Linked DNA regions of Homo sapiens: region 1 is linked to region 2. Evidence: fine-mapped expression QTL. Tissue or cell type: lymphoblastoid cells. Region 2 holds a variant in brackets; the other region holds the start of a gene. All regions are shown on one strand. Distances are between the middles of the regions.

Evidence for each region. PIP is the estimated chance that this variant, and not a neighbour inherited with it, causes the effect.
Region 1: KCNAB1 starts here. The variant in region 2 is the best candidate, but not a certain one, in a credible set for the expression of KCNAB1 in lymphoblastoid cells (GEUVADIS, PIP 0.54).

Annotation. Positions count from the first base shown.
Region 1 is chr3:156,118,756-156,121,787 of GRCh38, forward strand. It overlaps KCNAB1 (potassium voltage-gated channel subfamily A regulatory beta subunit 1), which reads left to right and starts at 1,823. Exons shown (of 14, transcript NM_172160.3): 1 at 1,823-2,131. The coding sequence starts at 1,857.
Region 2 is chr3:156,540,459-156,542,958 of GRCh38, forward strand. It overlaps SSR3 (signal sequence receptor subunit 3), which reads right to left. Exons shown (of 5, transcript NM_007107.5): 5 at 1-2,500. Among named protein-coding and RNA genes, the nearest start is that of SSR3, 13 kb to the right of the region's middle. The variant G/A (reference allele first, on the strand shown) is at 1,238.

The sequences.
Region 1 (3,032 bases), 420 kb before region 2:
TGCCCTTTCCACAGTTCCATTGCAGAGCCCCCCATTGAAACATCTCCAAGAATATTAAACTGGGGTGATTATCTCCAGTCTACACTTCGGGGAGTCTAGTTGCTATGCATATAATGTTGCCAGAACTCCTCAATGACTCAAGGGATGGGAGCAAAGAGAGTAGTTGAAGAGGCTGTCGCCTGCTGGTGCTAAAAGTTCCTAAGACCCCACAGCATCAGATGGGACTGACCCTGCTAGTTGGTATCAGTTGCCTCCTTTGATACATGCTTCAGGCTGCACATTACTTGGTGGTTACAGTTCTAACCCTAGACTATCCTGGACAGTAATATCAAACAGGTTTCACCCAAATGTGCAAGAGCCCACATGGCTGTTAATTGGTTAATATTGATATTGGTTAATTAACAGCCATAGGGATCCTCAAAGACCTTTGGCAGGTCTTTGAGAGTGACAGTGGACTAAGGGCAAGTGAAAGGGGGCAAGGCGTACATTAAAGGAAGCAAGATAATCCAAGACAGCAGTAGATGACTTGTTACCAAGCCATGTGACCGAGGTGACCACATTAGTTCAGATAGTAAAGGGATGAGAATAGCAGTGAAGGAAATTCTTCCTCCATACCGTGGTGGCAGAGGAGGCCTTATGACAGCCTATTGACAGACTTTCCAAAAGAGCTAACTGCACTTTCCTATCTCTTTAAGAAGGCATGCTTCTTTCCTCCTTCCTCTCCTGCTCTTCTCAGGGACTCTAAGGACTTGCTATAACTCTACAATTTTTAACTTACGGTTTTGTCATGGAAAGAAAAATACATGCACCTTCCCAAGTTCTTTACATGCAGCAGGCACTGAGATAGTTGATCCAGAAGAGACTTAAGTTGATTGAGGGGGAGGGTGCCTGGTGCTTAACGGGTCACTAAACAACTCTGTGATAGACCCCTAGGTGGACACTGACATCATTATCTCCTAAACTAAAACAGAGTGAGATCCATGGGTGTGTGTGGGTCAACCCCATGCATCTTAACCATAGGGCCATCAGCTTGGCTTTCTTTGTTTCTCCCAAACTAGTTTTCATGTACACTGGGCACACACATACACATCCATGCACATACAGGCTCCCACCATTCCCTCCCACTCTTCTGTTTTTTCACACCAGTTTTGGCCTTCACCTTCCCAATTATCAGATGATTCTCATGGCTTCTATTTGTCAGAAGTGCTGGGAGGGGCAGTTACTGAATCGGTTATGAGGGATTACCATTCTCACATTAGGAATGAAAGAGTGCCTGACATACGTTATGTGGTTCACTGACATTCAAAGAAATATAAAATAAATTTAAAATGTTCAGGTTTGCACAAGAGAAATAATCTTTCCCTTGCATTGATACTGTTGAACTTATTTGAGGAAATTCACATTAAAACTTTTAAAACTCCAAAGGGACTCTAATCAGGAATGGCTAATGAGCCTCCAGAAATCTTTTATAACTCTAACATGATTATCGAATGTAATTTACCAAACCTATATGACCAAAAGTTCAGAGTTGTCACTATTAAATAAAGCAAAAGTCCTAACTTTGCGGAAGAAACAGCCACTGCCAAACTTCAGTATTACAAAGTTGTTGGGAGTTGTTTTTAAAATTTCCGTGTTCGAAGATACCACAGGTATTGGCCAGCTTACCTCTTCACTAGGAAAGGTTAGAGATACATTTTCATCCCAAGCCACAGACTGGGCTCAATTACAGCTTTGTGGCAGGATAAGGTTAAGAGAGGTGGAGTGGGCAGGGACGAGGGAGGGAGGCAGAAGCAGAAAAATCAATTCAGATTACTTTGATGACAGTGACTTCCAGTCTTCTCTGAAAGATCTCCACGATGCTGGCAGCCCGGACAGGGGCAGCGGGGAGTCAGATCTCAGAGGAGAACACCAAGTTAAGGAGACAGTCTGGGTTTTCTGTAGCAGGGAAAGACAAATCTCCCAAGAAAGCCTCAGAAAACGCTAAAGACAGCAGCCTTAGTCCCTCAGGGGAAAGCCAGCTCAGGGCGCGTCAACTGGCTCTGCTGCGCGAAGTGGAGATGAACTGGTACCTAAAGCTCTGCGACCTGTCCAGCGAGCACACCACCGTCTGCACCACAGGCATGCCGCACAGGTAAGCTGCCCCTGCTCTGCGCGGGCTTTGGGAGACGCCGTTCGAAGGTGCTCTGGAGAATGCTTTGATTTCTTTTCCTCTGCAGCTGGAAGTCTTAACGGCTCTAATTGCCTTAGAGATGATTGGCACTTCAGAATGTGTAACCACAAAGAGCAGGATCTTGGTGCAAATGGCAAATAATGTTCCCTGCATTGTTATTCAGAAAAGACCTCTTACAAGGAGGCAGTAGATGCTTAGGAGCTGACAGGACAAAAGAGCATTATGATTTTTCTTAAGTAAAAATCAGAGGAGTTAAGAGATGGTAGGAAAGTGCTCCCTTCCAAAATAACTACAAAAAAGAGTTTGCAATCTTTCAGCATTTCCTTTGCTCTGAGAACTTGGGGATGAGGGAAGAACATTTGTTTTGCCTGGTTGAAAAGTGGAGTTGAGTAGTGTGAACTTGTTGAATGAGGGGTCAGGCTGGCCATAGGGATGCAGAATGGGACATATTGACCACCAATATAGGGATCTGAGCCCCGTGTCTAAGACAGATAACATCAGGAGAAAAAGGTAACTTTTAAAAAAGAGATAAATGTAAGGCAAATCTCTATGGGTTTTCTTTCTGTTCTTTACTCAGCCTCAGCTTCAAATAAAGCAGAGGAAGGATAATTTCACAAATCCCAGTGTTCCAAGGCAAAACGTACTGAGTAAAAAGTGTCTGGAGTCCTGAAATTTAAGGATGCTTATTTTCTATAATTTGTGCAAAAAATCTCTTAGGAATTAAAGATAATTTTGGAAGAAAAAATACTGTGAAAATAATACCTAGAATAGCTATGTTATTAAATGGTAATAAAAATTCCTTTGAGATGAAAAATGGTTCCAATTACGTAGTCAAAGTATGGAAAACTCCTTTTGTAGAGAC
Region 2 (2,500 bases):
AGCCGGGTGTGGTGGCGGGCGCCTGTAGTCCCAGCTACTCGGCAGGCTGAGGCAGGAGAATGGCGTGAACCTGGGAGGCGGAGCTCGCAGTGAGCCAAGATAGAGCCACTGTACTCCAGCCTGGGTGACAGAGCGAGACGCTGTCTCAAAAAAAAAAAAAAAAAAAAAAGAATATCAATCCAAGATTTTTATTAAGTTAAAATGAAGGAACTAAAAATAGGTAAATGAAAATGTTATAACACTTTAGTGCTATTTATGAGTATGAACAAAGGAATTTAATCACTTTGAATCCCAATTACAGATGAATCTTTTATTTCATGGGTGCTGGGTATGTGGTCTTTTTAAGACAAAAATTCTACAGCATGGTTTTACTAAGTCAGATTGAGTAGGTCGCATCTCTGTGTGCCACACAGAACTTTTAGACAAGAGTAGAGGGGAAAAGGTTCTGCAATTCCTCACAGTAAAGTACTCACACAGTAAATCCTTAACGAAAACTACTGAACTGTGAGTATATGCTTTATAATCTTATGCACAGAAATGTATCTATTAGTACAGAAAGTTGGAAAACATCAAGATTAAAAACAGTGCTGTAGGAAAAATTCACAACAGTAAACAAATTTTGCTCACTCATTTTCCTACAAATCTTCAGTTTATTAATTCAAGAGAAACTATATTAGGAATATTCGGCTGATACCCCTATTTCACCACCTCATCTAAGCTACACTGTATTATACCAAGAATGGTGGCAATTTTTTCCCCATCTATACAGGCACTGCCATCTAGTGGCAAGTTTTCACCAGCAATTTTAAAAGATAGTGGCCCAACTCTGGTAACAAATAGTGGACACTGATGGTTTGTCAAATAAGCAAATGCATTTATTTGATACACAAATTCCATGCCACCAGTCAAACTATGGTCTGGCTTTTTTTTTTAACCAACAGTAAAGAAAACTTTTTGGGTTTTTTTGTTTCTTTTTTGAGATGGAGTCTCACCCTTGCCACCCAGGCAGTAGTAGCACGATCTCGACTCACCGCAACCTCTGCCTCCTGGGTTCAGGCAGTTCTCCTGCTTCAGCCTCCCAAGTAGCTGAGATTACAGGCGCCCACCATCACGCCTGGCTAATTTTGGTATTTTTAGTAGAGACGGGGTTTCACCATGTTGGCCAGGAGTTCAAGAAAAGTTTTTTAAAAATAATAAACCTCTAAAGTGTTACCCTAACTGTACCTTACAGTGATAT[G/A]TGACTTCTCTAGTCACTCCACATTATCCAGTGATGGCACCTAGATAATAATGCACCAAAGAAAAGTAAAGAATTGCAGACTTCTAGAAGCAATGATGAAATATAATTCTCAGTTGCAGAAAATGATGATCTGGGTCATTATGCAAATGCATTCCTGCCTGTTTTTCTTCCAAGTTCTTGCATGGAGCCCAACACATCCGATAGCATGGAAGTGGAAGTTAAACTCCCGATGAATAATTTTTATAAAATTATAAAGAAAACAACTAATAACATGTATGAAATTCACATTAAATTTAGAAGTGGATAGTAAAGATTAGGACTATATTTCCTTTGGGGTGCTGCTTGTAGGAAATTACTGAATGACAACTGCTATCACCTGTGATTTCATATCCTTTTAGCTGATATTGCTAAAGAGCTTCCCAAACTTTTTCAAGTCATGGCATACACAAGAAATGATATCTGTACATACACGGGTAAAAAAATGCAAGAGATTGCTCTCAGCTGGATCCCCAAGGGCTAAAGAGATAAATATCTTGCTCACAATCAATGGGAACCTGTGAACTAAAGAGTCAAATGTATGAAAGTCCTCATGGAAAAATGCTGACAAGCACTAAAATCACTGTAAATTCCTTGGAGAGTTCTCAGAATTGCAGAAGTTCAGAAAAATTACTTTGGTCTTTTACATGTCAATATTCAGGAAAGAGGTTCTTTCTCTTACTTAACATTCCTCCAGGGTGTGAGACCCTGGTCAAGGAAAACAGTGATTCCTGTGTCTTAGTAAGTCAAACCAACATGGCAGGGTCAAGTTGACCTCCCTGGCCACTCAGGGCCAAAGCCATACAGTGGAACAGTGTGTTCTTTAACCTCGTAGGACAACTCTCATATGCCTGGGCACTATTTTTAGGTTACTACCTTGGCTGCCCTTCTTTAAGAAAAAAAAAAGAAAAAAAAAGAACTTTTCCACAAGTTTCTCTTCCTCTAGTTGGAAAATTAGAGAAATCATGTTTTTAATTTTGTGTTATTTCAGATCACAAATTCAAACACTTGTAAACATTAAGCTTCTGTTCAATCCCCTGGGAAGAGGATTCATTCTGATATTTACGGTTCAAAAGAAGTTGTAATATTGTGCTTGGAACACAGAGAACCAGTTATTAACTTCCTACTACTATTATATAATAAATAATAACAGCTCGGCCCAGGTTACTGTGACCTCTGACAGATCAAGGAAACAAGTTATTTTCTCCTCTTGTGATTACAGCACAT